Homo sapiens: one gene and its partners. The protein of the gene in region 2 purifies or fractionates together with the protein of the main gene of each other region. This does not show direct contact. Each region holds a gene or a part of one and is shown on either strand. Other genes may lie near its edges. The genes, in order: ATP2B4, TAS2R7, CCNYL1 and INTS12.

Region 1 (7,830 bases), on a different chromosome or scaffold from region 2:
TGAGTTTCTTTTACAAAGACCCTTCCAGATAGCATCTATTCCTATAATGGCAGTGTGAGGAAGCTATATTAAGTGAATGCTGGGTATGTTGGCATATTGATATTGTCTAACTCCTTCCTTCTGAAGGGTAGGGAAAAACTGAGCATTTCCCACCCTGGGGTCAGGTCTAGTGCTTGCAAGAGACCTTATGCTGAAGCTTGCCCATTTGATAGAGGGTGGCAGGCTGGGCTTTAGGGTCAACCCAGAGCTAAAGGACTATGCTAATAGTGTCCCATGGTCTAGGTCATTTGACTCCTCTCCTCTCAGAGGACCCCACACAGATCCTTTTGCGTGTCTGTCCTGAAGCTGAGGATCTAGGGCTGCCCATCAGTAGTGAGCCTTTGGAAGGGAAGAGATGCTGGCCGACAAGAACTGCTACCCTCCCAACACCTTCCAAGATGGGAAGCTGCTTCTCCCAAGGGAAGGACAGACCACTATCAGAGTACCTGAGTCTGGATACGGTTCAGGCCCCGGAACCAGAGGATCTGGCCTCGGCGCAGCTCCATCTCAGCATGGTCAATCTCATCCAGTCCCTCGGCATCCTTGGTGATCTCCTCTTTGGTGGTGCCATGCCCAGCCTCCTTCAGGAACTTCAGGGATCGGGTAGGTATTGCGGAGATGAACTGAAAACAAGCGCAGCGAAGAGGAAGACGTCAGAATCAGCGTGAGAAGAGCTGTCAGTCAACTTACATGAGCCAGGCCCTTGGGCAGGTTACTCTTTGCCCTACCACCCTTCCCACTGGAAGAGCAGTGGGCAGAAGCACCAATCCATCCAGGCAAGCATTCTCCAAGTGCCCACCAGCGGTCAGGCTTTTAGGAAGGTTTTCTGTATTTATGGACACACACAAAAGAGAGCTTCTATTCTAGTAATTGACCAGCCATCTGCCTGGTCATATACTTCATTTTCCTCTTTCTGTCTCATTTCTTCTGTTCCATTTTGCAATCTGTCTTTTAAGGTTAACAGAACTATACAGCATGGTACGCAGTAGGAAGAAACAGAGACCAGGACCTGGGGGAAAAGAGTTTGGGGAGAAGATGGTGATATTGCCTATGTATAGGCAAGGGGTTGAGAAGGGTATTGGAAATGAATGACCCCTTTCTTAGTTGCCACATGCAAAGTAGTTTCTGTGTTACAAACTCTTGTGAAAGGATACCAAAAGTTTTCTTGGGCTTGAGGTGAGGAAGTGGATGGGACAGTCCATAGAAGAGGGGTCACATGAGTATTATCAGAAGACAAGGAGCAGTACATAGGGTTTGAAATTTGAAATAAATTTCCCGGTGAGCTCAGCACCTGTCAGTCAGTTCTTTCCGGACAAGATAAGGAGTAGCCAGGGCTCATGTGGGGAAGAGGGACTGTATGGGCAATCTGATATGGAGTCAAGGGTTTTGAAATGGGAAGAATGCCAGAGCTCTGCCTCTGAATGTGGAAAAAGCTGTTGTGATACAGAAGGAAGGCTGCTGTCTGGCAGCAAGGCCACATGGCCACATGTGAGGCAAGAGCCAGAACAGAGTTTCAAACAACAGGTTTAACAACCAAGCTTTACCAAAGCATAAAACTGCTTTAGGAACCCATTGGTAAAAAAAAAAAAAAAGAAATCTTCACCAAACAGAACAGGGTGGAGGGAATTGGGTCAGACATTAATTAGGGAGGGCTGGGTGCAGCGGTTCATGCCTGTAATCCCAGCACTTCGGGAGGCCGAGGCAGGAGGATTGCTTGAGCCCAGGACTTTGAGATCAGCCTGGCAACATAGTGAGACCCCAATCTCTTTATTTTTTGTTTTTCGACATAGAGTCTCACTCTTGTCATCCAGGCTGGAGTGCAGTGCCGTGATCTCAGCTCATTGCACTCCGCCTCCCGGGTTCAAGCAATTCTGCTTCAGCCTCCCAAGTAGCTGGGATTACAGGCATGTGTCACCATGCCCGGCCAATTTTTTTTTTTTTTTTTTGTATTTTTAGTAGAGACAGGGTTTCACCATGTTGGCCAGGCTGGTCTCGAACTCCTGACCTCAGGTGATCTGCTCGACTCAGCCTCCCAAAGTGTTGGGATTATAGGTGTGAGCCACTGCGCCTGGCCTGAGACCCCCATCTCTTAAAAAAAAAAAAAAAAAAAAAAGAAAAGAAAAGAAAAGAAAAAGAAATTATTCAGGGAGGCATCTAGGTATGAAATAAATAACTAGCAGGTTTAGGGGAGAAGGCCTGCAGCTCCAGAAATGGCTCTTTGAGGCCAGTTAGGGCAAAGTGTCCATTACCTGGGTGGCTGGACACTAAGGGATTATCTGCAGAGACCTGGGGTCTGTAAAGAGAGGTATAGCCCAGGCCAGAGCTGAGGATGAGGGAGGTTTGTAAAGTGGTATTAAGGAAGAAGTGAAACTATTAGACTTAATGATACTATTATAATCGTAATAGTTTAAAATTTGATTATTTATAAGGAATAAGACATTATTCATTACTGTATAGTAACTGATTCACTAATTAACAATGACCTTGTTTTCCTAAGCTGAAGACACTGAGACACAGATTGGTTATGTAACTTGCCCAAGATGATTCAGCTTATAAAAAGGAGAGCTGAGGCTGGGCACGGTGGCTCAGGCCTGTAATCCTAGCACTTTCGGAGGCCATGGCGGGTGGATCACCTGAGATCAGGAGTTTGAGACCAGCCTAGCCAACATGGTGAAACCCTGTCTCTACTAAAAATACAAAAAATTAGCTGGGCGCGGTGGTGGGTGCCTGTAATCCCAGCTACTTGGGAGGCTGAGGCAGGAGAATTGCTTGAACCTGGAGGGTGGAGGTTGCAGTGAGCCAAGATTGCACCATTGCACTCCAGCCTGGGCAACAAGAGCTGGGCCAGGTGCGGTGGCTCACACCTGTAATCCCAGCACTTTGGGAGGCCAAGGCAGGCAGATCACGAGGTCAGGAGTTCCAGACCAGCCTAGCCAACAAGGTGAAACTCCGTCTCTAGTAAAAATACAAAAATTAGCCAGGTGCGGTGGTGGTTGCCTGTAATCCCAGCTACTTGGGAGGCTGAGGCAGGAGAAATTGCTTGAACCCAGGAGGCAGAGTTTGCAGTGAGCCGAGATCACACAACTGCACTCCAGCCTGGGTGACAGAGCAAGACTCTGTCTCAGAAAAAAAAAAAAAAAAAAAAAAAAACAGAGAGCTGGATTCAAACCCAGGCAGTCATTCCCAGAGTCCATGCTCTGAACCACAGGCCATACTGCTACTCTAGAGATCTTGTAAATCTGAATTTATCTCAGGTAAGAGTTAAGAATTCCACCCAGATAAAGCCATGGCAAGAAAGAGAAGAGGCTGGAAACCCTGAATTATGTCAGCTCGACAGCCCATAGCCAGGTTGCTGCCTCATGAGAATAAAGACATGTGTCTTGTAAACTCTTCTACTTCTAAGACCCTTATTATATATTTTTTTTTTGTAGCAAAATTCCATTGAAAAGTTTGGTTTCTGTCTCAGAGAAGCTAAGGGATTTTTCTTTTTTTTTTCTTTTTGACACTGAGTCTTGCTCTGTCGCCCAGGCTGGAGTGCAGTGGCGCAATCTCGGCTCACTGCAAGCTCCACCTCCCAGGTTCACGCCATTCTCCTGCCTCAGCCTCCCGAGTAGCTGGGACTACAGGCACCTGCCACCATGCCCAGCTAATTTTTTGTATTTTTAGTAGAGACGGGGTTTCACCATGTTAGCCAGGACGGTCTTGATTTCCTGACCTCGTGATCTGCCTGCCTCGGCCTCCCAAAGTGCTGGGATTACAGGTGTGAGCCACTGCGCCCAGCCAAGCTAAGGGATTTTTCTACCTCCAGGCTTAGTTAGAGAAGAATTCTGAAACCTCTGAAGTGATCATTCCACCTTGAGATCCTATGAGATGGCAAGAACTTGAAAACTTGAGTGGGGGTGGGGAGGGAAGAGGAGAAGATGAAGATGAGGAGCTGGGGGGTCTCCACCGTTGCTTGTTCCATCTCATGTAGAGGAGGGGAGTTCTGCAGGCTGTGAGAATGCACCAGGAGGGTGTGCCGGTACTCACCTGGCCCCACAGAAGTTCTCCAATCCCAATGAAGAGACACCACAGCCACTGAGACAGGCTGAGGCTTGTACAACTGAAGGGTTTACCCCCAAATTCCACGATGAAAATCTAGAACAGAGAAAGGGGCAGCCCACCATCAAGGAAATGACTAACAGGCAGCTGGCCCTCCAGCCAAGGCCCCCAAAGCCACATCATCCCACTCCTCAGGATCCTTGGGTACAAGTCCCGATTTGCTTGCAGGGGAAGGGAAAAGAAGAAATCTCAAAGGGGAGACAGACAAAAACAGCCTTTAAGAGCACTCTGATGGGGAGACAGACATAGTTACTGTGACTATGATTAACAGACAATCTGGAGGAGTTAGGGGAGCTGGTGGCTTCTTGTGACTAAAGCCAGTTAGTGACAAGGAGAAGGTACAGTGATGGAGTTAGGAACTGAGGATGAGGTGGGAGGATTGCCTGAACCTGGGAGACTGAGGCTGCACTCCCCCTGGGGGAGGGGGGAAAAGAGAGAGAGAGAGAGAGGCAGAGGGAGAGAGAGAGAGAGAGAGAGAGAGAGAGAGAGAGAGAGATATCTGTCTCAAACGAAAAAAAAAAAAACAAAAAGAAAAAATGGCAGGCGTAATAACACTTTGGGAGGCGGGAGGATTGCTTGAGGCCAGGAGTTTGAGACCAGCCTGAGCAACAGAGTGAGACCCCATCTGTATTTTTAAAATTAAAAAAAAAAAAAAAAAGGAATTGAGGATGGGGACAAATAAAGGGAGGTGCCCTGCTGAGGGATGGGACATGATCAGCTCATAGTCTCATATTGGAGGAGTCCAAGCTGGGCTGACTATGTAATATACATGTACAAATCCCATTACTTCTCTTTCTTTGAGTTGCACAACACTTTTTATCATAAGCCCTTCAGAACAAAGGGCAGGGACAGGGAGAGTCTATACTAGATGTGCATGCACATTTCATATAGGCTGACAGGAGCCATAGAAAGGGACTAGAAGAGAATACTTCTTTTGGTCATTCTGTGAAATTTCTGTGTATTTAGAAAGATCATGAAAGGATTTTAGAAGTATTATTTTATTTCCAGTCAACATGCTGCCCTGCACTGGAGCTCTTGACACAATGGGCTCCAATTCTAGAGCAATATGCAAAAGAAAGCAGATTGGGAATCCCAAAGTGTTCAACTTACAGCTCCAGTCCCCGTAATTCCTTCATTCCTTTTCCTAGGTATGTAGGGAACCCTGGCTCCCAGCTTCTGCCCTTTATCATTCCAGATCTCCTGCCCCAACTGCAGATAGAATCTCACCTGGCAGATGAATGTGCCCAAGACTACAGAGCAGAAGATAATGTTGCGGTAGATGCCTGAAAAGACGTTCTTCTCTCCATGGATCTTTCGGGAGTTGATTTCATTGAAGAGCTGCATCAGCACGAAGGTGTTAAAAACAATGGTATAGTGCTGGCTGGGTGGTGAATGTAGAGGTGCCTTCCTCCCACTATCAATATCAAAGAATTTCTCACCTAGTGGGGAGAGGAGAAGCACTGGAGGTTAAGTGTGGTCTGAACTAAGAGTAAGAATGTGTTGGTACAGATATACTGCTTGCTTATGGCTGGTGTCCATTCTAATTAATCAATATCTGAGCTGCACTAGTTATTTATTTTTTTGACACAGGGTCTCACTCTGTCACCCAGGCTGGAGCGCAGTGGCATGATCATGGCTCACTGCAGCCTGGACCTTCCTGCTCAAGTGATCCTTCCATCTCAGCCTCCCAAATAGCTGGGACTACAGGCGTGCACCACCATGCCTGGCTAATTTTTTGTTGTACTAGTTATTAAACATTTTAAATGTTAGTTCTGGTCTTGACTTATTTTACCTTCTCTCTCAGTTTGCTGCATTGATACTTGCTCTCATGTAGTGCAGCATGGTAGTAAGACTATGTGCGCTGGAGTCAGGCAATCATAGGTTTGAATTTTACTGCAACTATGTACTCATTATGGGACCTGAGGTTAATTTTTTGAATCTGTAAAAAAAGAAATAAGCCAGGCGTGGTGGCTCATGCCTGTAATCCCAGCACTCTGGGGGGCTGAGGTGGGCAGATCACAAGGTCAGGAGATCGAGCCCAGCCTGGCCAACATGATGAAACCCCATCTCTACTAAAAATACAAAAAGTAGCCGGGTGTGGTGGCGCATGCCTGTAATCCCAGCTATTTGGGAGGCTGACGCAGGAAAATCACTTGAACCTGGGAGGCAGACGTTGCAGTGACCCGAGTTAGCGCCACTGCACTCCAGCCTGGGTGACAGAGCGAGACTCTGTCTCCAAAAAGAAAAAAAAAAAAAAAAAAAGAAAGAAAGAAATAATAAAGCCTCCCTTGTGAAATTCTTGAGTACACACAGTACACACTGTACTCAAGAGTACTGTATGAGTACATATAGTAGCATAATGCACCGTGTAGCGGGAGCACAGCAAGCACTGGGAGGTGAAGCTGCGCTTATTCCTGACCTGTGCACTTGCTCTCACGCTACCTTCTTTCTCTGCCCCCACCTCCAACCAGGACCCCAGCTGCTACCCACCCCCAAAGTGGCTCACCCGCAAAGACAAGGATAAAGATGACAATGAGCTGATAGAATGCATGGCCCAAGATGTTCTTCATCATAGTGCGTGAGATCAGAGGCTTATTTCGGCCATAGGGGCGCCGCTTCAACAGAGATTCCGTAGGGGGCTCTGTGGCCAGGGCCAATGAAGCAAAAGTGTCCATGATCAGATTAACCCACAACATCTGCACAGCTTTCAATGGGGAATCCTGGCGGGGAGAAGAACCAGTCCTTTTAGCTTTTCTCTGAAACCAGCCCACCTTTGCCCTGTCGATGGCCCAGCTCCCACGACCCACCTAGACTTGGAATCTGGCCACTTCCTAGCTGAGTGACTGTGAGAAAGCTACTTAACTTCCTTGAGCCTCAAGTTCCTCACCCATAAAATGGGGATAATAATACCTACTTCACAAGGTCATTTTTGAAGAATACAGATAGTGCATATAAATGCTTATTACAGTGGCTGACACATAAGTGCTAAGCTAAGGCCTGTAAGTTACCATCTACATAAGCAGATGAAGACAGCAGACTTAGAAGAGCTAACTCCTGTCCCAATGTCATGGGGAAACGCTGTCTTTACTCTTCAGTAAACACACCGTAGTCTTCACTCCATGTTCCTTAGCCCCTGACTCATCCCTCCCGTCTCAGCCCACCCACACCCCCTTCACCTGAGTGATACAGGCTCCAGTGAAGGCTACAATCACGGCCACCACATTGACAGTGAGCTGGAACTGCAGGAACTTGGAGATGCTGTCATAGACATTTCGTCCCCACATCACTGCCTTCACAATGCTGGTGAAGTTGTCATCTGTTAGGATGATGTCTGAAGCCTCCTTTGCTACATCTGTGCCTGCGATGCCCTGAGGTAAGATGGGAGGGAAAACAGTGAGGGAGTGGATAAAGCCCAGGCTCCATTTCCTGACCTCCAGGAAGCTTCCGAAGTCAGTGTAAATACTACAGGGCACACTAGTCACACAAAAGAAAACAAAGAGCAAATGTGTCACTGTCACTCTAGAGAAAGGAGGGCTGCGGCCTGATGCCACCAACCTTACTGTTGAGCTCAGACTGGGAATTACAATCATCTTTGATATCCCTTTCACCCTCCCCTCCTACTCCCTCAACCTTGGAAACTAATTAAAAGGTAGAGAGCAAATCCTGTCTATTCTACCTCCAAATTCTCAC
Region 2 (6,973 bases):
TTAAAAAAAGATGTCTTATATACAATCCAAACAATATTTCTCTGGGATGTAGAGATGATCTACATTGAGGCAATATATCCTTTGAGAGTTTTGACATTTTAGCATAACCATGTATTAGCTTTTGATTGAATGTCTTGTCACAGCATCTTGATAATCATTGCCTGGTGCAGTCCGTGGACATACGTCTTTTGTGGAGAAATTTTCTTCAATAAATAATTAATAGTTCAATTTAGGCTTCTTATTTTATAGACATTTTCTACATAATTTTTCTCACTTTTACTTATAGATTGTCCTTCATTCATTGATCTGCAATTCTCAAATAATCTTTGAACTTACTGTGACAATATATTTAGCCATAATATATACCTTTTCTGTGATTATAAGATTATTCATAGAATTCCACAGCATTTATTAAGAACTGTCACTTTATTGAGTCTTTCCCAAAAGTAGAGCTTTGTTGGATGATCCAAGAGGAACCATCTAACGCGGACTATGAGAAGGAACTAGTTGCTTTTCATAAAGATGCAAATAACAGCAAGATGCTGTTACAGTTGTTTTGAATTAGTCACACAACTTTGCATCTGGAAACACGGTTTAGAACTATGAAAATGCCCTCTACTCTTGATAGTTGATATTAGGATATTAATTTCTATTTGCTCTGAAACATGTTTTAAAAAACAGCAACTCTAAAGAAAGGAAGAGTTACAGAAGAGAGAAACAGGGATACACAGACAGAGTCAGAAACAGAGACAGAGATAAAGAGATCCAGCCAGCTGTACATAAGATTCCCTACATTACAATTACAGATACACTAATTAAGTTTTAGGAGTAATTAATCACATAAAACATTAATGCAAGAACTGAAGTTAATTTAGAAACATCTTATCTTTGTTTGTCCTAGAAAAGCATAGTTTCTCTTCAGATTTGTTTATGTTGTTGGAATTTTCTTCCTTTTAGAATAGACATTACTTTCCAAATCACCTTTAGAGATGCATGTCTTAATTTATTGTTCCCCAGTATTAGGATAAATGAATGACTTGAGGGGTAGATTAGAGCTATGGACTCACCAAAAATCACAGCTAATTCCGTCTCTGGCATAAAGTAGCTGGAGGTGGCAATGAGAAAGGACAAATAGTAGGCAATAAAGAGGAGAAGGAAGGAAATGACAGCTTTCAGGGCTCTCACATGGGCTTCTGTGCTGGGGTCTCTGCACCCTGTGGCACTGAGCTGCATTCGCCTGATATGTCTCCGCAGGGAGAGGATCAAGAGGAAAAAGGACATTAGGCACACACAAAAGGGGAGCAGCGTTGCCAGGTTGAGAAATAACTTGGTAGAAGCATGTTGAGTTTTATTTACTCTGCAACTCCAAGTTAAGTTTGTTTTCCTCTTTGCCTTCACACAAAACCTGAAATCAGCGTTCAAATTCTCAGTGGCTGGAAGGCTAATAAACACAGAGAGAACCACGCACCCCAGTAGAATCCAGGAAATCACCCTGTCAATTCTCCACTTCATCCAGAGGAAAAGTGGGTGAAAGAAATTACCTATCTTGAAGAAATAGTAAATGCTGAGGCAGGTTGCAAACCAGATACTTAAATGATTGGTTAGTGTCCAGAAGAAGTCAATGATTCTCATTTCTTTACCAGTGGCATAGACATCTGGATATAGCACCAATATAAAACAATCTAATAGTATTACGCACAATAGACAAATTCTGGATATGGCCAGACTTGTGAGGATTAAATCAATGGAGGCAATTTTCCTCTTCTTGACCCAGTCCATGCAGTTTACCAATCCAATGAATGCATTCCCTAAGATCCCCACTGAAAACTCTCCAACTGCTAAGAACAATAAAGTAGTCTGCACTTTATCTGCCATGTTTAAATATGCAATTAGTTTCTAGTTGACCTGATGGAGTTTGACATCCACACCTGCTTCTTAGATTTTGATGTAGTTTTCTTTACCTCTTTGTTGTAGTCTGTTTTGTGATGGAGACTGGAATGATAAATGAAGACTGGAGCTATCTTCATTAAATCCTAATTAGTCTTGACAAACAATGTGTTTGGCGATCCTTGGCCTGGCCACTGTATGCCCATTTACCTACTCAGCAGGTTGTAATTTTCCACATACGGTTAATTTAGGCTGAGCTACTGTTTACTAAGATGCAAATTGGGCCAATTCCCTTTCATGGTCCTGCATTGTCTTTCTGAGGCTAAGGTGTACGCATTTTGGATTCATTAATTTGTGATGTATGCTAGTAACCTCAATAGGGTTGCTAGATTTAGCGACTAAAAATTCAGGACACTCAGTTAAACTTGAATTACAGGTAAAAAAATCAATAATTTTTTAGTGTATGTCCCTGATTACTTAAGATCAGTGCTTTCAGGAAGTACTGAAGTTCAAATTAGATTGAGTGTTCCATTCTGGCAACCTGAACATCAAGAATTTGGTAGCAAGTATAAAACTGGTAAAATTGGAAAGTTCTTGAAGAATTTTTATTTTGCTGAATGTTAATATTGATAATTAGTAAAGAATCCAAAGTTTGGTTCCATAGTGAGAGTTATATATTTTCAGGAACTTTAAAAAGTTAACACTAAATGTAGGTTATTTGATTCCAAAGAAACTTTAGGTCATTATTTTGGCTGTTCAGATGAACAATTACATGGCATAGTGTCTCTTAATACAACACATTGTCTTACTGACTAAATGACTTTTAATGGTTATTTAGCAATGTTATATATAATAAGGTAGAGGACCTGTAATAAAAAAAGACTATTGATTACCTTAAATTTTTCATTTTCACTTAAAATGTTCTCAAGGAAACTTTGAGAGGTATTAGATATGTCCATTACCTTGTTTGTGGTGAAGATATCATGGGTGTTTGAAATTTTATACATTAAATATATGCGGTTCTTTTTATACCAATTATACTTTCATAAAGATTTCAAAAATTTAAAAAATGTTCTCAAGGGTAGTTGTATGCATGAGAGAGGAGATAGTAAAATTCTGTATTTCATTCTCTCCACTGTCCTCCATACAAATTGCATGAGTATCTAGATCCTCAACCCTTCTAGCAGGAGACTGAAGATTAAACTTTCCACATCTCTAGAGATGAATTTTTAGTTTGAAATAGCTTCTCTAATTTAGAGTTACTGAGAAGCGCTTTACTACATGGGGTTCCATAGAATAGTTCTTGGGTATTCACACCTTCCTGGGAATGCATGTCTTCTCTTATCCTTCCTTAAAGGACAAACCATCATTCCGGAGATGTAGCCTTAACTTTTGGACAATCTGTATGATTATGTAGCCATGTTCACAGGCAACTGGAACATCACCTATGATAGGACGATCTTGGATATGATCCCTGACCTAGACTTATCATTTCTTTTGTTTTTTTTTTGAGATGGAATTTCGTTCTTGTTGCTCAGGCTGGAGTGCTATTTTGGCTCACCGCAACCTCCATCTCCCAGGTTCAAGTGATTCTCCTGCCTGAGCCTGCCAAGTAGCTGGGATTACAGGCAGGTGCAACCATGCCTGGCTAATTTTGTATTTTTAGTAGATTCCGGGTTTCTCCATGTTGGTCAGGCTGGTCTTGAACTCCCGACCTCAGGCGATCCGTGTGCCTTGGCCTCCCAAAGTTCTGGGATTACAGGTGTGAGCCACTGTGCCTGGCCTAGACTCATCATTTTTACCCTACAGTTTATCCTGGTAAATGAAGTGCTCATGGGAACTATGATGATGTATTTTCTCAAATAATTTTTAGACTTGTTTTTGTTTAGTTTTGGAAATAAATGTAGATTTTATGAATACCAATGTTGTATAGCGTGAAGTTATGTGAATATATAGTTAAAAAAAAAGTTCTATGAGAGAGCATTTTGTCAAAAGCTTACTACTTTGAACCCCAGTCACTGTGGTCACTAGAGATGCTTGAAACATTAGAGAGGCAGGAAACAAAATATGGAAGAAAAAAACTTAACCCTAATGGGGTAAAACCTTCCCAAAAGTACTAATTCAATAAAACGTTTATTTCACTTAAACCTTAGGAAAAATATAAAGTTCATCCTAGTATAAAATCTACCTGTATTTTGTAGAATACATTAATATATTTCATCAAGAGAACATGAATTCTTGTGTCTTGTAAAACAAAGAGTAACATATACAGCTAGCATATTAGAAATATAGTTCATAAAATTTATATACTTGGGGCTATAAATATTAGTACTTTACAGAGTGAGTTTTACATAATAATAAGACAAACAACTGATAATTTTCCGGTAATTAGTATTTTAGTTATAATAAAAGGAAATTAGTAGATTGAAATACATCAGAATTAAACAGAAAGTAATGGGAGTAAAAGCAATAATGTACAGCCATATTAGTACATACACAACCTGAGATATGCCAGACCAAACGTTTCAATAATATTATAGTGAGGATGGATTTCATGTTCACAGAAAAATTAAAAATTTTAGTGACTTATTTTCCTTTTTTTTTTAATAAAAATTTATCTGTATTTTTTGTAAACATTCGTTTCTTCTTCCAGGGACAGTATGTGCTTATTCCATGGTATACGCTATTTTCTTCCCAATTTATTTCTTTTGTTAAGTCCTGAGTGAAAACCTTTGCAGGGTCTGGTTAGAGAAAAGAACCTGATTGAGCAGTCTGACTAATATTTGTTATCCCCATTCTTTTATCCAGATTGTGAAGAGGGCTTAGGAACACCCCTTGGTGGGTGGCACTTGAATGGGTTCGATTCCCACCTAGGTGCTGCATGAAAAGCAAGTTGTTTGAGAGGAAATTTAATTCCAAGGAAAATCAATAGAAATCATCAGAATAAGGTCAACCAGAAAATATTACCTAGGAGACCATGGAAATCATCATTCGGGAAAACCAAAGACAGACCAGAGAACATCTGAGTTCCTAATCAATAAGCCAAATGGGGGTGACTCAGCAGAGCCATGAAAGGAGCACAATTAAGGAGCGGCAATAAAAATGTATGACAAAGAAAAATGAGAAACCAGTTACTGTAGCTCAGGTCCACTTTACCATGAGCCAAAGTAAAATCTAAAAAGACTTTAACTAGGCAATACAGGCCTAACACTTGCGTTGAGGAGACAAGAAGAGAAGCATGAGCTCTGAAATTCTTCGAGGAAAGGGAGTGTAAAGATGAGCATTTCTGAGTTGTAAAGGGATAGAAAAGATGTATTCAGTAGTTTGCTACTAGGTCCTAATAATATTTAAAGATATGCATCCAAAATAAATGAGATAACTGGGGAAAAATGAGAATAGACTATTAAGAAAACTATATTTTTTGTTAGAGAAGATTTGGTTTTAAATTCCATTTATACAGCTAAGATTTCATATCATGCAGGCAATTTTTCTACATGTCAGCATTCTGACAAATGTCTGCCTCAGTTTATTATTTAAAACAATTAAAATAAGTGAGTGACCCAAGGGGTAGAGAATTGCTGCAATCTCTCCAAACTCCACAGCTAACTTGTATTTTGTCATAAGATAGCTAAAGGTCATCAAAATAGAAGAAATATAGTATAGGAAAAAAAAGAAGATAAATGAAGTCATAGTTTTAATGGCTCTCACATGAACTTCTGTGCTGGGGTCTCTACTGCCGGTAGCATAGAGTTTTATTTGCTTGGTATGTCTCCATAAAGATCTTACTAAAAGGAAAAATGATATCAGTGACACAATAAATGGGACAATTGCAAACAGGTTAAAGAGAGTCAAGGGTTCAAAGTATGGTATTTTACTCACATGGAACATTTCAGTAATGTTTCTTTTATGTTTGGCAATTGCATGAAACCTATAATCACAACTCAGTACTATTGCTGCTATAAGGCTGACCAACAAGGAAATGGCAAAGCATCCCAGCAGGATCCAGTGCACCACCATATCAATTTTCCACTTCAGCCAGAGAAAAAGTGGATGAGAGGAACTGGCTATCTTCAGAAAATAGAAGACATTAAGGCAGGTGGTAATCCACATATTTAAGTAGTTGGCAAATGTCCAGAAGGTAAAAATGACTATCTGTTGTTTATTTTTTGTATAAACATCTGGGTTCAGTACTATTACAATGCCATTTACAACCATTACACTGATCAAACAAATTCTGGCGATAACTAAATTGGTAAGGATGTAGTCAACTGTGGAAATCTTTTTCTTCTTAATCCAGTCAATCCAGTTGACTAGTGCAATGTATCCATTCCCCAATATTCCTAGTATGAATTCTCCAGTTATTAGGATTATAAAGATGTTATCTGCAGGACTGAACATGTTTGTAGAGAGAACAATCTGATTTCAAATATCACTGTAGATGAGCTAATTTACAGGTGACCTGTTAAAGCATGATAGATCAATTCTTCGAATCATGCAATAATGTTTTCATCTGCTGTTATTTCGACGTTGTTATTCTTCCGGAAGTGTTCAGCTCTCCTCTGAAATAGGATTGTCTCTACACTCCTGAAGATGAAACCAACTAATGAGCAGCTTGACTAGTTATTTATAGCCTGGAAAAATTATAATTATTATCCTTTAGTGAGTGATACCTGAAATGTTTGGCTGAAATTGCTCCCATGCAAATTCAAAGAGATTTTATATCATGAATTTGCAACAGGCTTCTTGCTGTAGCTCTATATTTGGATCTTCAAATTGAGTTTTGAATAGGGAGTCATAAAAAAAGAGATAAATGTTTAATAAAAACCCAACTGTGTAAATAAAACTTCATTTTCATCATGTAAGTTATAAATAAGCCACAAATCAGTTCTCCCAGATGCAAAGAAATTTTCACTTTGGAAGTAATTAGTACAATTAGATTGTAGATATTTAACATTTAGTCAGAGGATAATAATTCTTGTCTTCATTTAAACGGCTAATTAGGGAAGGATATAATACAAATCTAATTAGAAATGACTTTTTTTTAGGCAGGCACATGATAATATTTACTAAGAATTTGCTTTCTTTT
Region 3 (7,830 bases), on a different chromosome or scaffold from region 2:
TGGCTTACAGCTCCATGAAAAGGCCTAAGTCTGATCCAGTACCCACTGAGGGGCTTCTATTCAAGTGCACAGAAGCCTTCTCTCCTAAATTCCAATTGGATGCTAAAGGAGTAGGTACTGACCTAAGTATTCTTTCCCTCCAGGCCATGCAGTTGACCTTCCTCTATAGGTTTGCTGTGGGGAGGAGTAAAACAATCCTAACCACTTGAATAGGATTTATTATTCAATGATAAAATCTTACCATAGGAATTCTGTATGGAGGACATAAAGTTAAGGACACAGCTATAGCTTAGTAAGCTAATCAGCAAAGCCTTTGTCCAAGTATTGCTGGTACCACATTGCTGGGCAACATCACGAGCAGGCACAAGAGGTAGGCAGAGATGATTAAAACCCATCATCCAAGGAACAAAGAATTTAGGGCAATAGTTCTCAATCACCACACATATCGGAAATACCTGGGGAATAGAGCCTGGGACTTGGCTTAGACCTACACTGGAATCAGTATCTGGCTCTGAACCACATGGTTTTGTTACCACTCCCCATCACCCCCAGCCCTGCCACCATGCCTTGTATGTGTACACACTGAATGTGTACATGTGCATTGATGGGTAGGGGGAGAAACCAGAAATCTCCCCGGCTGCCTTTTGTAGCAACTGTTCTGTGATGAGAAAAGCAATGGAAACATGTTCAACCATAATGATGATTAAACGCGAATGTACGTATTTATGTTCCTTTCATAGGTTTCTCTTAAAGTTCTGATGATAATTTCAGGAACCTATTTTTATTTGAAAAATAGGACCATACCCTGTGTACAAGACTAATTTCTAAAGACACTTTATAAATGAGAAATATCTTACCAAAGTTACTATTGCACATTCAGCTGTTAGCTGTGCAGCACTAAAAAGAGTACGAACAAATCTGTAAATAAATTTGTGCTCAGGATCATGCTTAAAGTATTCCTCTGGAACTTTTTCTCGCTGAAAGAAGAAAAGATGCAATGTTAGTATCCACTGAAGAAAAAAATTTTAAGCTTTTTTTTTTTTTTTTTGAGACTGAGTTTCACTCTTACTGCCCAGGCTGGAGTGCAATGGCATGATCTTGGCTCACTGCAACCTCTACCCCCCGGGTTTAAGTGATTCTCCTGCCTCAGCCTCCTGAGTAGCTAGGATTACAGGCACCCGCCACCACGCCCAGCTAGTTTTTGTATTTTTAGTAGAGACGGGGTTTCAACATGTTGGTCAGGCTGGTCTCAAACTCCTGACCTCAGGCAATCCACCTGCCTTGGCCTCCCAAAGTGCTGGGATTACACGCGTGAGACACCACGCCCGGCCTAAGTACTTTTTTTTTTTTTTTTGAGACCCAGTCTTGCTCTGTCGCCCAGGCTGGAATGCAGTGGCACAATCTCGGCTCACTGCAACCTCCACCTCCCAGGTTCAAGTGATTCTCCTGCCTCAGCCTCCTGAGTAGCTGGGATTACAGGCGTGCACCAACATGTCCGGCTAATTTTTTGTATTTTTAACAGAGGCAGGGTTTCACCATGCTGGCCAGGCTGGTCTCAAACTCCTGACCTCATGATCTGCCCACCTCGGCCTCCCAAAGAGCTGGGATTACAGGGGTGAGCCACCATGCCCAGCTGGCCTAAGTACTCCTAAGACCAGCAGTGTTGACGTTTGAGCCCATGTACCCCTTAAAATAATTCTGGTTGAGTGACATGACTTTTAGTTTTTAAAATATAAACAATTGGATCTTAAAATATCATAGTGATTCAATACTCATCACCATTTATCATTAAGGAAAAATACAGGCACAACTCAGAAAATTTTTATGTTCCTTTCCACTTTCTATCCACAGAATTCTATCAAAATGTAAACTACTTGTAGGCTCGAAAGTCTTACTAATCATATGTTAGGATTCTCTTAAATACACTTTGAAAAATTTTTTTTTTTTGAGATGGAGTCTCACTGTCGCCCAGGCTGGAGTGCAGTGGAGCGATCTTGGCTCACTGCAAGCTCCGCCTTCCACGTTCACGCCATTCTCCTGCCTCAGCCTCCCAAGTAGCTGGGACTACAGGCGCCTGCCACCGTGCCCGGCTAATTTTTTGTATTTTTAGTAGAGACGGGGTTTCACTGTGTTAGCCAGGATGGTCTTGATCTCCTGACCTCGTGATCCGCCTGCCTCGGCCTCCCAAAGTGCTGAGATTACAGGCATGAGCCACCGTGCCCGGCCTGAAAAAATATCTTTAGTTTCCTGTAACCATAAGGCTCAAAGGCTTCACTGTCCAAGACAATAGTCATTAGCCACGAGCGGCTATCATATACCTGAGGAAGTGAATTTTTAAATGTTTACACCATTTTAATTGATTTAAATTTAAATTGTTTTCTAATTATCTTCATAGAGATCATGTATATTTGTTAGGACTATTTATAAATATCAGCATGAAATAAACACAACTCTATGAGAGAAAAATACTACCTCAAAAAAAGTGACACTTACTGTAAGTGGATGTGATCTCTCATCAAAAATATCCAGGGATCTATTTGCATCTCTATAAAATAAGAATATGCATTGAAGAAGTTAATTCAGGAATTGTTAATATCTGAGTAAAATGTCTGCTGGGGGTGGCGGGAGATGCCTCCTGTTTGCTTTGGTGTTTGCTTCACCAAAGCAAAGAGTTGTACAAATTCTTCTCCGGGATGCCAGCCTTCAGAGGATTTCCTGACCTCTTTTTACTCAGCATATGAGGTTCTGTACTGTGAGGTCTTTTCTACAATGACGATTCAGAATTGCCTTTAAGTATTGGCCCTCCCTAACAGGCAATGGTAATAAAGTATATTTTCACTCTTCTAACCCCTCATTGGAACTCAAGAACGTTTTACACAGCAGTAGTGGTGGGCAATAAACTCTTTAGAACTTTAATGACTGTGAATGAAATTCAGATTTCCCAGGCTTTTCCTTTCTAGTTCTCCGTATTACATTCTTGACATGTATTTGTTTAAGTAGTTTGATGAGTTAAAAACCTTATTGTCTTTTTATTTTAAAAGAGACAAGGCTTTGATAATCTTTACAAGTTTATAAAACTAATACATTGTGCTCATTTAATAAAACCAGTGGTTCTCCAAGTGTGGTCTGTGGACTTCTGGAGACCCTCTAGATCCTTTTCCAAGAGGTCCTTGAGGTCAAAACTGTTCTTTTAAGAATACTTATTCAACCTGAGAAAGCTGATTGAAAATTTAGAAATAAAAATAATTTAAAAAAAAAGAATACTAAGGTATTGCTTGCTTTTTGACTGTATGACATTTGTAATGAGTGTATAACAGCAAAAGTGGGCAAACTGCTGGCTTCTCAGCATGAATCAAGGCAGTGCTACCAAATTATACTAGAAGTTATGCTACTCTTTACTGCCTCTTGCAGTTTAAGAAAAACACCTGCTTCACTCATGAATATCCTTGCTGAAGCAGTAAAAATTAATGGTATTATTAAATCTTGACCTTTCTTTTCACTATTCTGGAGTAAGCAGAAAGTTCACATAAAGTAATTCTGCATACCGAGGTAGAGTTGTGTTAAGGAAAAGCACTTGTGATTTAATTGTGAGCTAAACAAGCCATTTTTTTTTCACAGAATATCATTTTTACTTGAAAGTACAAATGTCATTCTCAAAAATGAAAGAAGTGGCCAGGTGTGGTGGCTCATGCCTATAATCCCAGCACCTTGGGAGGCTGAGGCGGGTGGATCACTTGAGGTCAGGAGTTCGAGACCAGCCTGGCCAACAGGGTGAAACCCCATCTCTACTAATACAAAAATTAGCCAGGCATGGTGACAGGCGCCCGCAGTCCCGGCTACTCAGGAGGCTGAGGCAGGAGAATCACTTGAACCCGGAAGGCAGAGGTTACAGTGAGCGAAGATGGCACCAGTGCCCTCCAGCCTGGGCAACAGAGTGAGACTCAGTCTCAAAAGATAAATAAATAAAAAGTTTTAAAAAAATGAAGCCTGTCACTTCAAGAAAATAACACTATTTGTTGCAATGATAAAATTCAAGCTTTCAAACTAAAAATCAGGATTTGGAGAAACTTGTACCTTATTATGTGAGTTTAACAGCTTCTCAATACTTAAAGATTTTTTAATACAATTGGTGGTGATACTAACAAAAGTGAGCTTTGCCACTGTCAAGAAATGTGAACCAGGCTGGGTATGGTGGCTCACGCCTGTAATCCTAGCACTTTGGGAGGCTGAGGTGTGCGGATTGCTTGAGCTCAGGAATTCAAGACCAGCCTGGGCAACATGGTGAAACACTGTCTCTACTAAAAATACAAAAAATTAGCTGGTATGGTGGTATGTATTTGTAATCTCAGCTACTTGGGAGGTTGAGACAGGAGAATCGCTTGAACCCGGGAGGCGGAGGTTGCAGTGAGCTGAGACTGCACCACTGCACTCCAGCCTGGGTGATGGAATGAGACTCTGTCTCAAAAAAAAGAAAAAAAAAAGAAAGAAGAGATGTGAACCAATATTTTCCATATAACCAATGCATAATATTAGAAAACCAAGTAAGGGGAAATGATACATATATTGTACAAGACAGATGGGTGAGTACTAATAAAAAATTCATTGATAACACAAAATTCCACTGTAACCATTTTAAGAAACTAGCACTTGTGGAGTGTTGGGTAGTATTAAAGAATACTGGCCGGGTATGGTGGCTCATGCCTGTAATCCCAGCACTTTGGGAGGCTGAGGCGGGTGGATCACCTGAGGTCGGGAGTTCAAGACCAGCCTGGTCAACATGGCAAAACTCCATCTCTACTAAAAATACAAAAATTAGCCAGGCGTGGTGGCATGCGCCTGTAACCCCACCTACTCGGGAGCCCGAGGCAGGAGAATCGCTTGAACTTGGGAAGTGGAGGTTGCAGTGAGCCGAGATCGTGCCACTGCACTCCAGCCTGGGCAACAGACAAGACTCCGTCTCAAAAAAAACCAAATAAAAATAAACTAAAAAATAAAGAATACCCACAACCATCTGAAAGCTTTAAAAATATACCTTTTACCAACTATATATTTGCGTGAGGCTAGGTCATCTTCTTATCACTTCTTCAAAACAAATTACAGCTCACTACCAGGGTGCACTATTAGCCACGTAATACACCTACACATGTACTCACTGTATCTAAAATAAAAGTTGAAATTAAAAAAAAAAACTAATTGCAAAGACAGAGATGAGAATCCAGCTGTTTTCTGTTAAGCTGGACACTAGAGAGTTGTATATATATAAATACATGACACATTTTACTCAACTTCGTTGTTGTAGAAGAGAGTTATTTTTCATGAAAAAATATTATTTATGTTAACAATATGATTCTCAGTCAGGGGTTATATTTTTGTTGTCACAACCTGGGACAGCTGTTAAATATCCTACAATACACAGGACAGTCCCCACAACAAAGACTTATGTAGCTCAAAATATCAACAGTGCCAACGTTGAGAAACTGAAACTAAATATAGGGTTTTTTTTTTTAAATTCTCAACTTCAATTTCTAATGCAATAAATATCAATATAACCAACATAAACAAATACTCTTTGGGATCCTCAGTAATTTAATAATTGAAACCATCTTGGGGACCAGAAAAACCACAAATGATTCAGTTCAATACTGTAATAGCAATCTATAGCTTATGATGTCTATAGTTATGACCTAATACTGAACTTGATATCATGCAAAGTAATTAGCTGGAATAACAAGACAGGTTTTAAAGGAGCTCACCTGTTCTTTATGTGGTAATATATTGCTAAGGTCACACTGTGAAGGGAAAAAAAAATTATTTTTAACAACTGATTTAAACATTTGTTAGGCCTGAAGACATTTTTTAAATGAGGGAAGGGAGGAACCCTCCTAGCGGCCCTGAAATCCTCTAGTTCAGAACAGTACCATATGGGTACTTTCCCCTTGTTTTAGTTCCTTTCAGCAAAAATACACGAACCAAAATGCTAAGTAAGGCCGGGCGCAGTGGCTCACGCCTGTAATCCCAGCACTTTGGGAGGCCGAGGCAGGTGGATCACGAGGTCAGGAGATCGAGACCATCCTGGCTAACACGGTGAAACCCCGTCTCTACTAAAAATACAAAAAATTAGCCGGGCGTGGTAGCAGGCGCCTGTATTCCCAGCTACTCAGGAGGCTGAGGCAAGAGAATGGCGTGAACCCGGGAGGCAGAGCTTGCAGTGAGCCGAGATCGTGCCACTGCACTCCAGCCTGGGCGACAGAGCGAGACTCCGTCTCAAAAAAAAAAAAAAACCCAGTAATATGCTGTTAAAATACATGTTTCTGTGGACTATTATAATATATAAATAATTACATATATCCCCATTTGCTCTTCTGCCCATAGAACCTTTCATTTTATACAAGTTCTACCTATTTGTATACATGCTTAAATTTAAACTATTTGGTTTTTTGGTTATTTTTATTTTTTGCTTTTTAAGCTGTTAGGCTCTGCATTTCAGTTGATTTAATTAACTATCACCTACCCACCCATCTTTCATTATTTCCCCTTAAAGTAAATAAAAGTGTTTTATACCAAATAAAATCATTTATGATCAATTTTGCATCATTAGTAGAAAATTTATTAGTAAATAAGTGCACACAAAACCAATGATAGGTGTAGCTATCCTGAAATAAGCAGTGCTAACAATGCAGCATAAAACTACAAAGTGTAATATTAATGGCAAGTATTTCCACATTGGTTTAAGTAAAATATTAGTGAACAGACACGACTTTTCAGATATATGTTACTGTATTCCTAAATTACCCACAGATGTTGTGTATCAGGAAACAAGGAGTTGTCTTAGGTAAGTTATATGCTTCCATTTGCCCTCAGTCTCTAAACTGAGGCTCAAAATAATTGAGGGAAGGCAAATCTGAATTTTAAGTCCATACAATGTTAGCACTTTTTTAAAAAGTCTGTAACATTAGCATCTAAGATGGATACTTCTATAGTGCTTCAAACATTTTCATGTCCAAATTGATTTTAACATTACAGAATTTGAAGTTATATGCTGAAAAGGACCACGGAACCTTACATGACATTTAATCCAACACCCAGTTTACAGATATGGGAACCAAGGCTTAAAACTGACTTGCCCAAGGTCCCACCAAATAGAAGCAGTTCATCCTCCTACATTCAATTAAGCAGTGGTTCTCAAACTTTCTGCACACTGCAATCACCTGAGGAGCTTTAAAAACTGCCTAACTTCCAACTTGAGACATTCTGATTTAATTGGCATCGGGTATGACTTGGGGCATGAGGAGTGTTTTTTGTTGTCTTTTTGTGTGTTTTGTTTTGTTTTTTTTTTGAGACAGAGTCTTGCTCTGTCGCCCAGGCTGGAGTAAAATGGCACAATCTCGGCTCACTGCAACCTCCGCTTCCCGGATTCAAGCTATTCTGTCTCAGCCTCCCAAGTAGCTGGGATTACAGGTGCACGCCACCACGCTTGGCTAATTTTTTTGTATTTTACTAGAAATGGGGTTTCACCGTGTTGCCCAGGCTGGTCTCAAACTCCTGAGCTCAGGCAATCTACCCGCCTTGGCCTCCCAAAGTGCTAGGATTACAGGTGTCAGTCACCACGCCCAGCCTGAGGGTTGTTTTTAAAGTTCCCCTGGTGATGATTCCAATGTGCTGCAAATTTTGGGAATGACTGAGTTAGGGTTAAGACCAGAATCATCTGGGATGTGCTTGTCTGTGTAATTATGCCTCACATGCCTTCTCCATTTTCCTAAAAGGCTTGTGACTGCCTAGAGATCAAGGGAAGGTGGAGGTGAGATGAATTTGTTTGTGGACATATATTTT
Region 4 (7,830 bases), on a different chromosome or scaffold from region 2:
TGTTCTTTAAGAGATAAACTTCCATTTTAGAACCCCATTAAAACAATTTTTTTTCTTTAGTAATAATAGGTTTCCCTATCTGGACAATACCAACACCCACAGTGGAATGAATTTGGTAGTATGTTTTGTAGAGCCATATTGATTTGGTCGATCTGAACTCACTGAACCTACTGCAATGAGAATGGATAGAAGAAATGAAGTCACAATGGTTCTGCTATTCAAAATACAATAAAAAGGCTTCGGAGTACTAGACCTAGTATTGAAAGAAGGCTGGGGACAAAATGCCAGTGTTTACTTGGGCTCTGAGCCTGGGACTAGATCCTCTCTTGAGCTTCAGATTCTGGTTAGACTTGAGCTAGTCATGTTCTATTTTCTCCTTCTCAGTTTGGGATCTAAGTCCACAGACCTGAGTGATTTGGAGTTTGAGGGTCAGAGCTTAGAAGGATTTGATAGAATGTCTTAGTAGGTATTAGGGAATATAATAAGAGTTGTCATTCAGTGACAGCCTATTATGTACCAGGCAGGTACTACACTAGGTAACTCATTTACTGGATCTCCTTCAATTTTTACAACTCTGCAAAGTAGTTCTTATTATCCCCATTTTACCAATAAACAGACTAAGTGAAATGAAGTTTCTATGTACCTCAGTTTCCTTATGTAAAATGAAGAAAACAGTTATCTATCTTAAAGGATCATTATCATAATTAAAATTAATTATTCACATAAACTACTCAGAAAAGTGCCTGGGACATCAAGATACGTTGTCTATTATCATCACACAATTATAAGATTTAAGTGGGATTTAAAACAGGTGTGTTTGGTATCAAAACATATATTCTTTTCACATAAAGCTGCCATTGGCTGCTTTGTTATTATCAAGACAGGAGCTACACAGTTCTCAGAGTTCATCCATACCTCCTTTTCTCTTAAATTATCCTACCCATATTCAATTTATTTTGTTGAAAGATCTGTCCTTTTACTTGATTTTTTTTAATCCTTAAAATATTAGGCAATAATTAGAAGTAAGTTGTGGTTACATTCAGCAGCTTAAAAAAAATTCTGATCACAAAGAATCGGAAATTAAAGTAAGTCGTAAACAAGTGAATTCATATACACATAAAGTAGTAGAACAGAATATCCTGCACCCCCAGCTGATTTTTCTATGTGGTGTAACAGTTCTCTGAAAACTTGAAGGGAAAAAAGAAAATAAAGAATATAATTTCTTCATGCTACAAGGAAAGATTATTTCGGCAGAGATTGTTTTGAGATGGTCTATATGTTATCAATGTAGTACTACAGGCCTTACAAAACTCTCTCCAAGCTTTTTATTCATTCAAGTACCTTTTGAGATGGACGGTAACTGGAATCAATGCCCCGAGCCAAAGATTCATCAAGCAGTGCTTTTAGCTTTTCAGCAGAATCTTTACTCTTTGAATGCAAGAAACCTAGTGCTTTCAAAAAAATGGGATCAAGTTCCAAGTTCACAGTAGCAGCCATTGCAAACGCCTGAAGGAAAAAAAGAGAAAGTAATCTAGAAGACAATGCACAATTATCTATGTTAAAGTTTTACTTTTCTGTTTTTTAATTTGTAATAGATAATACTGTACACATGATATAAAATTTAAAATCACCAAAAAGTTATTACAAATAAAAGTAAATTTCCTTCTTATTCCTGACAGGCATTATCTAGTTCCTTCCCCCTGAAACAACTAGCAGTATCAGTTTTCTGTGTATCCATATCGATGGTAACGTTTTAAATCCAGGTAGGCCTCTCCCTGCCACAGAACTCCTTCCTAACTGTGTTTTAAAAGATACACTTCGCAGTTTCAGTACATAGAACTTGATGGGTTTACGTCAAGTTTACTCTGTATCAAAATTTCTTCTCTCAAACCTTATTTCCATAACACAAGGGAAGACTTAGTGTGCAGGTGTTTGTGTGTGTAAGGGCTATCGTAAGAGGGCAATGGTGAAAAGGTATATTAAGTGATTAGCTATCATGGTCACTGCTGCCACTTTTACCTCAACTCTTTTTTTTTTTTTTTCTAAACTCACCTCTTCAGTTCTCTGCCCCAACCCTAAATGTCTCAGAAAACATATTAATGATAACCTTATTTGATCACATTTAGATTGTGGTATCTCATGCATTAACCTATTTTTAAAAGTAAGGTCTCTGAGGGATAATATCATATCTACTTAAAACACACACACACACACACACACACACACACACACACACAGAGCCTATGATGCTTTGTGTCCTAAAGAGCTTAAAAAATAGCCAAGATGGATAAAGATATACATCAAAGGCTTATGAAATTCCACAATACTAAAAAGTTTTGTTTTTAGTTAATACCAATGCTATCATGTGGTTCTGCTTCTGGTTGTCACTTTTTCAAAGACCTCTCCAGGCAAGAAATTATCAAAATAAAAATGTATTCTTTGTGTTCAATCCTTTGATCAATATACTATGGCTTGAAATCTTCTATCCTTGAGGTTAATATTGTATTAATGCAGCACACTTGCATTGCTATAGTTAGGGAACTGTCAGCAATTCCACAGTTATCTCCCATTTTCAGGGGTTTATAACACCATTAAAACTTGCTGTAGGTTGAATCCTAGCATATGAAAGCACATCTGAAAATGGATTTTGTTGTCCCCTCCCCTCCAGCTTCACTCCTCATCCTTCTCCACATCTGACAAGAAACACACATACACATCCCTAGGCTTTTTTTTTTTTTTTTTTAAGTTCCCAGGAAGGTATTAGTTATCTACCTGATAACTACAAAATTACTGTCGAATTCTGTACTGTACTAAAATATCATCTGAATCACCCATGGAAAGGAATCCAAAGGCCAGTACTATAATGAAAAAGTAACCTTATCTCAAACTGTTGTATTTCTAAGAATTTAACAAAATTGAAAAGCAGCCTCTGTCACTTCTTAAAATTATATTATTATATACATCACCTCTACATAATGATAGGTACAGAAAAATTATTTTAAAATTTACTCATGGGGCTGGTCACCATGTACGTTCTGAGGAAAAAATAGCTCCTTAATAAAATTTCCAAGATTAAAAGGGTAAACCTGCCATTCCCCCAGCATATACAAGGGTAACAGCCTAATCTCTTTTTTTTCTTTAAATTCCACTCCTGTGACAGTTTACTAATCTTTCTACTGATTTTATTTCATATAGGTAAAGGAAATAGCAGTTTACTTATCCAGATTGTTATAAAACAATTTATTTTATTGGGTGCTGACCAAAGGGTTGACACCTAAAAGAACCCTTGTAATATATTAGAAAAACCATTTCTTGAAATTTCTATGCTGAAAAATGAAAGCCAAGTATTTATTGCTATGTATTTCTACAATCACAGGTAAGAGGTTTACATTACAGATTAGGTGACAAGAGTCAGCACCTAGATTACAAGACTGCGGAAGTCATCAACACCAACATTCCAGTTGGAACCTTGGAGTCAGTTCTTTTTATGCAATCTTGCCATTATAAAACTTAACAGGCTTTGTACCCCTCCCCTAAATTACTAACATGGCCCTTTGACCCAGTGGTCCCCATGGTGGAATACAGAGAAAAAAATATTAACTTTTTAATTTATTTCTATTTCTTTTTTTTTTTTTTTTTTTTTTTGAGACAGAGTCTCGCTCTGTCGCCCAGGCTGGAGTGCAGTGGCATGATCTCGGCTCATGGCAAGCTCCGCCTCACGGGTTCATGCCATTCTCCTGCCTCAGCCTCCCGAGTAGCTGGGACTACAGGCGCCCGCCACCACACCCGGCTAATTTTTTGTATTTTTTAGTACAGACGGGGTTTCATCATGTTAGCCAGGATGGTCTCGATCTCCTGACCTTGTGATCCACCCGCCTCGGCCTCCCAAAGTGCTGGGATTACAGGCGTGAGCCACCGCGCCCAGCCAATTTATTTCTATTTCTATTTATTTTTTAAAAATCTATTCATATACAGAGTGATAATAGTGTGTTATATAATTGATCTTTAACCTCAAGGAGCTTTATCTTCAGCCAGTGAAATCTGAAACTTGCCACAACTATTGTCCTCTTTTATTACAATCAATTCTCCTTTCTGACTACAATCTTCCATTACTCTATCTCTTCCACTGCCTTAATCCAGGGACCTCTTCAAAGTGCCAAGTCAATCTTTCTTCTGTATTTATTCATTTCTCTATTCCCATTCTACTTGTTCTTTGTTACAGAAGCCTCCAATTTCTTGTCCCTTCTGCTTTCTCCTTATTGGCACCCTCTTGCCCTGACTTTTGTTTCCTCACCAAACAGAAAACAGTAGTTGAACCTAAAATAAAACACTTATGGTTATGTGGTTTATATTTTATATTTTAGTTTTCTATCTTACCTTTACTCCCCCTTTTCTGTTGCCTTCTCTAATCTCTGTTACTTTTCCTTCCTTACCGGCAAATATCCATATAGTGAAAGAAGTTTACTTTCTACAGCAGTCATAAAGAGGTCAGCAACTTGGTGTAACTGTGTTGATCTACACATACAAAAATATTTTCCTGGAGTTACACCAAATCATGTTACTTCTATACAATTCCTTTCCTGTATATTCATTCCTAAACCCATGGCCAAAACAGACTGCAAAAGAGCCATATCATTCTTACTATGGATTAGAGTTCTAGAAAACAAAGTCCTGTGTGTGTGTATGAAAGAAAAATGTATATATGAAAGATATTTAATATATTAAATGTAGGTTTCATTTAAAAAGTAGATGTTGCTTTCAAAAAGGAGAATGTGAGAAAATTAATATTTACCACTTTAAAGCTTTCGCTGACCTAGGGAAGTGGTAGTAGTAGTATTGATAGGAGTGAATTCTTAGGTGATGCTGGGAATTAGCTGTGTCAAATGCATATAGCACAAAAATCGCCATTACTGAACAATGATCTTTTTTCTGTATCTCTTATTATCCTTGATTTATTGCAGTATGCCGTTTACTTCCTATCCAGCTCACATTCTGTGGTCCACCCTTTCAATACCTCTTTCAGTACTCTAGGCACCCGAAAGCCCTGTAGTTTCCCTACTTTATAGACATCCACCCTGCTAGCCATTCTCTCTCTGCCTGCACCCAAACTCTAAGTGCAACTGGGAGGAATATACATACATTCTATCTTCAGAATCACCATTCTCAGCTTGGCGTTCAGTACAACTTGGCAATTCTCTCATCCTTCTCTGGTCAACTCACTTCCCCACTTTCTGCAAAGATCAGTTATACTTCCTCCATTTTCTTTTAAAATTGCTTCTGTGTTTCAGTAGATGGCCTCACCTACTTCACAAAGAGAGGCTGTCAGAGAGGAATTAAGTCGACTTCCTTCCAGCACATCTACAAACTTACCTGCACTCATCCTTTCCTCTTTCCCATCTGATAAAAAAGGAGAAGGTAGCTCTCTATGTAGTGTCACCTGGATCTGGATCCTATCTCTTCTTGTCCCCTCTTGAACCTTGGCCTATGGATTATTTCCCATATCTTCTTTTTTTTTTTTTCAGCCTTTCTACTGGCATCTTTTCATTGACATTAAATATATTCAAACATCTTCTATCTTTTCTCTTTTATAGCAAAACGTTCTCAGAAATCATATGCTTTTGTACTCTTTTTCTTCATTCCTTCTATTTACACAGCAATTCTTGCAATTCAGCCTTTGTCCCACTATTCCATGAAAATGCTCTCATGAGTCATTCGCCGCCTCAGTCAGGTAAACCTAATACATACGATTGTCCCTCCTACTTCTTTGTCAGTCATCTTTGTAGGTTCCTCCTATCCAATTAAAAATGAGTTCCTCAGTGCTAGGTTCTGGGTCTCTTCTTGACTTGTTCTACATCTTCTTCCAAAAATGTGTTCTCTGAGTCAGCAGCATAGGTATCACGTCAGAACTTAGAAATACAAACTCTTGGTCTCCATTCCTAGGCCTACTGAAGAAAAAACTCTGGGAGTAGGGTCTAGAAATCTGTGTTAAGCCTTCCAGGCAATTCTATCTACTCTAAAGTTTGGGAATTATTGCCCTAGACAATTTGATCTATATAGTCTTTTGCCAGTGATTACTAATACATCTCTGCAGTCCATGTGTCTCTCCCAAGATCCAACTGCCAGCTTGACATGGATATATCATTGGTGCCTCCTATGCAACGTGTCTCCAACAGAGCCACTCATACACTATTCCCTTTTCTCCTAACCAGTTCTTCCTCTAGTAATCCCTTTTTCAAATGATATTTACCCTATTGCCCAAGCCAGTAACCCAGAAGCAGCTTTAACTCTTCCCACTTCCTTAATTCCCACCCCCAATTCAATAACCAAACCTCTTAAACATACCTCAAATCTATCCACCCTTTTCAATCCTTACTACTACCACCCTAGACCAACCTAGCATCATCTATTATCTGGCCCACTGCAAAAGCTTAATCAGTCTCCCACAATCACTCTTGTCATCCCTTTAAACCTTTTCATATCACTCACTTGCTTAAAATCCTTTTATCACTTCTCACAATCCAAAGGTTCAAGAATAAGATTCTTAACAAGGTCTCCAATTCTCTACATCAGGGGTCCCTAACCTTCAGGCCATGCAGCAGGAGGTGAGCAGTAGGCAAGCGAGGGAAGCTTCATTTGTATTTACAGCCACTCCCATCACTTGCATTACTACCTGAGCTCTGCCTCCTGTCACATCACTGGTGGAATTAGATTCTCATAGGAATGCGAATCCTATGTGAACTGTGCATGTGTGTGATCTACGTTGTGTGCTCCTCATGAGAATCTAATGCCTGATGATCTGTCACAGTATACCCCATCATCCCCAGATGAAACCGTCTAGCTGCAGGAAAGCAAGCTCAAGGTTCCCACTGATTCTACATTATGGTGAGTTGTCCAATTATTTTATTATATATTACCATGTAGTAATAAGAGAAATAAAGTGCACAATAAATGTAATGCACTTGAATCATCCTGAAACCATGTCTTCAATGAAACTGGTCCCTGGTGCCAAAAAGGTTGTGGACCATTGCTCTACATGATTAATAATACATATAAAGCAGTTACAACAGTACCTGACACATAGTTGACACTCATTAAATGTTACCTAGTATCTTAGGCCATTCTCACTCTCTCTGTTATAGCTATCTGACTTATTTCAAGTCCTCCAATATACTCTTTCTTACCTTAGCACTTCAGTAGAAAGTGTGCCACCCCCACCTCCATCTTAAGTCACCTCTCAAGTTTCAGTTTTTCCTGCACATTCCCTCAACAAAACTAGAAGTTTCACTGTTACATAGCCCAAAAACATTCTGTACTTATTTGTAATATTAATCACACTGTTAATTATGTAAATAATCTTTCTTTCTCATTAGAATGTAAGTTCCATGAAGGCAGGCAGTGGATTGGTCTTGCCTACTGTTGTAACCCCTGTCTGGCAGAGTTCCTGGAAAACAGCAAATAACTGTAAATGTTGGCCAAGTAAATACTTGTTATCTACTTCCAATTTCATAAAACTTTCTCTTCCCTTGAGTTCTGTTATACTCAACTTTTCTGTTTTTCCTCTTCTATCTCTGACTACTCTTTCTTTGGCTTATCTTCTTTGTTGCTTTTGGTATTGTCCAAGTATTTGTCCTTGGCTATCTTCTTAGTTCTGCTAGCAGTTTCTTCTTGGTAATCTTATACACATCAGGTTTTCAACTATCATCTCTGGGTAGATGATTTAATATGTTTTACCCCAACTTCAATCTCTTTTTTTTTTTTTTTTTTTTTGAGACATGGTCTTGCTCTGTCACCCAGGTTGGAGTGCACTGAGATCATGGCTCACTGCAGCCT

What was found.
Region 1: the proteins of TAS2R7 (region 2) and ATP2B4 purify together in Homo sapiens (affinity purification with mass spectrometry; 3 studies listed by BioGRID and IntAct, with this or other methods). This does not show direct contact.
Region 3: the proteins of TAS2R7 (region 2) and CCNYL1 purify together in Homo sapiens (affinity purification with mass spectrometry; 3 studies listed by BioGRID and IntAct, with this or other methods). This does not show direct contact.
Region 4: the proteins of TAS2R7 (region 2) and INTS12 purify together in Homo sapiens (affinity purification with mass spectrometry; 3 studies listed by BioGRID and IntAct, with this or other methods). This does not show direct contact.

What each region holds. Positions count from the first base shown.
Region 1 is NC_000001.11:203,720,227-203,728,056, reverse strand, and holds part of ATP2B4 (plasma membrane calcium-transporting ATPase 4), read right to left. Parts: intron 7,509-7,830; coding exon 7,317-7,508; intron 6,861-7,316; coding exon 6,647-6,860; intron 5,580-6,646; coding exon 5,368-5,579; intron 4,177-5,367; coding exon 4,069-4,176; intron 663-4,068; coding exon 486-662; intron 1-485. UniProt on the Homo sapiens protein: Calcium/calmodulin-regulated and magnesium-dependent enzyme that catalyzes the hydrolysis of ATP coupled with the transport of calcium out of the cell. By regulating sperm cell calcium homeostasis, may play a role in sperm motility.
Region 2 is NC_000012.12:10,800,696-10,807,668, forward strand, and holds TAS2R7 (taste receptor type 2 member 7), read right to left. Parts: upstream 1,933-6,973; 5' UTR 1,876-1,932; coding exon 919-1,875; 3' UTR 837-918; downstream 1-836. Other genes in the region: TAS2R8 (taste receptor type 2 member 8), read right to left, coding at 5,356-6,285.
Region 3 is NC_000002.12:207,735,370-207,743,199, reverse strand, and holds part of CCNYL1 (cyclin-Y-like protein 1), read right to left. Parts: intron 5,790-7,830; coding exon 5,754-5,789; intron 2,546-5,753; coding exon 2,494-2,545; intron 978-2,493; coding exon 858-977; intron 1-857. UniProt on the Homo sapiens protein: Key regulator of Wnt signaling implicated in various biological processes including male fertility, embryonic neurogenesis and cortex development. Activates the cyclin-dependent kinase CDK16, and promotes sperm maturation.
Region 4 is NC_000004.12:105,698,509-105,706,338, forward strand, and holds part of INTS12 (integrator complex subunit 12), read right to left. Parts: intron 7,467-7,830; exon of another isoform or gene 7,371-7,466; intron 6,883-7,370; exon of another isoform or gene 6,806-6,882; intron 5,302-6,805; 5' UTR 5,140-5,301; intron 4,516-5,139; exon of another isoform or gene 4,378-4,515; intron 1,764-4,377; exon of another isoform or gene 1,507-1,763; 5' UTR 1,498-1,506; coding exon 1,342-1,497; intron 1-1,341. UniProt on the Homo sapiens protein: Component of the integrator complex, a multiprotein complex that terminates RNA polymerase II (Pol II) transcription in the promoter-proximal region of genes.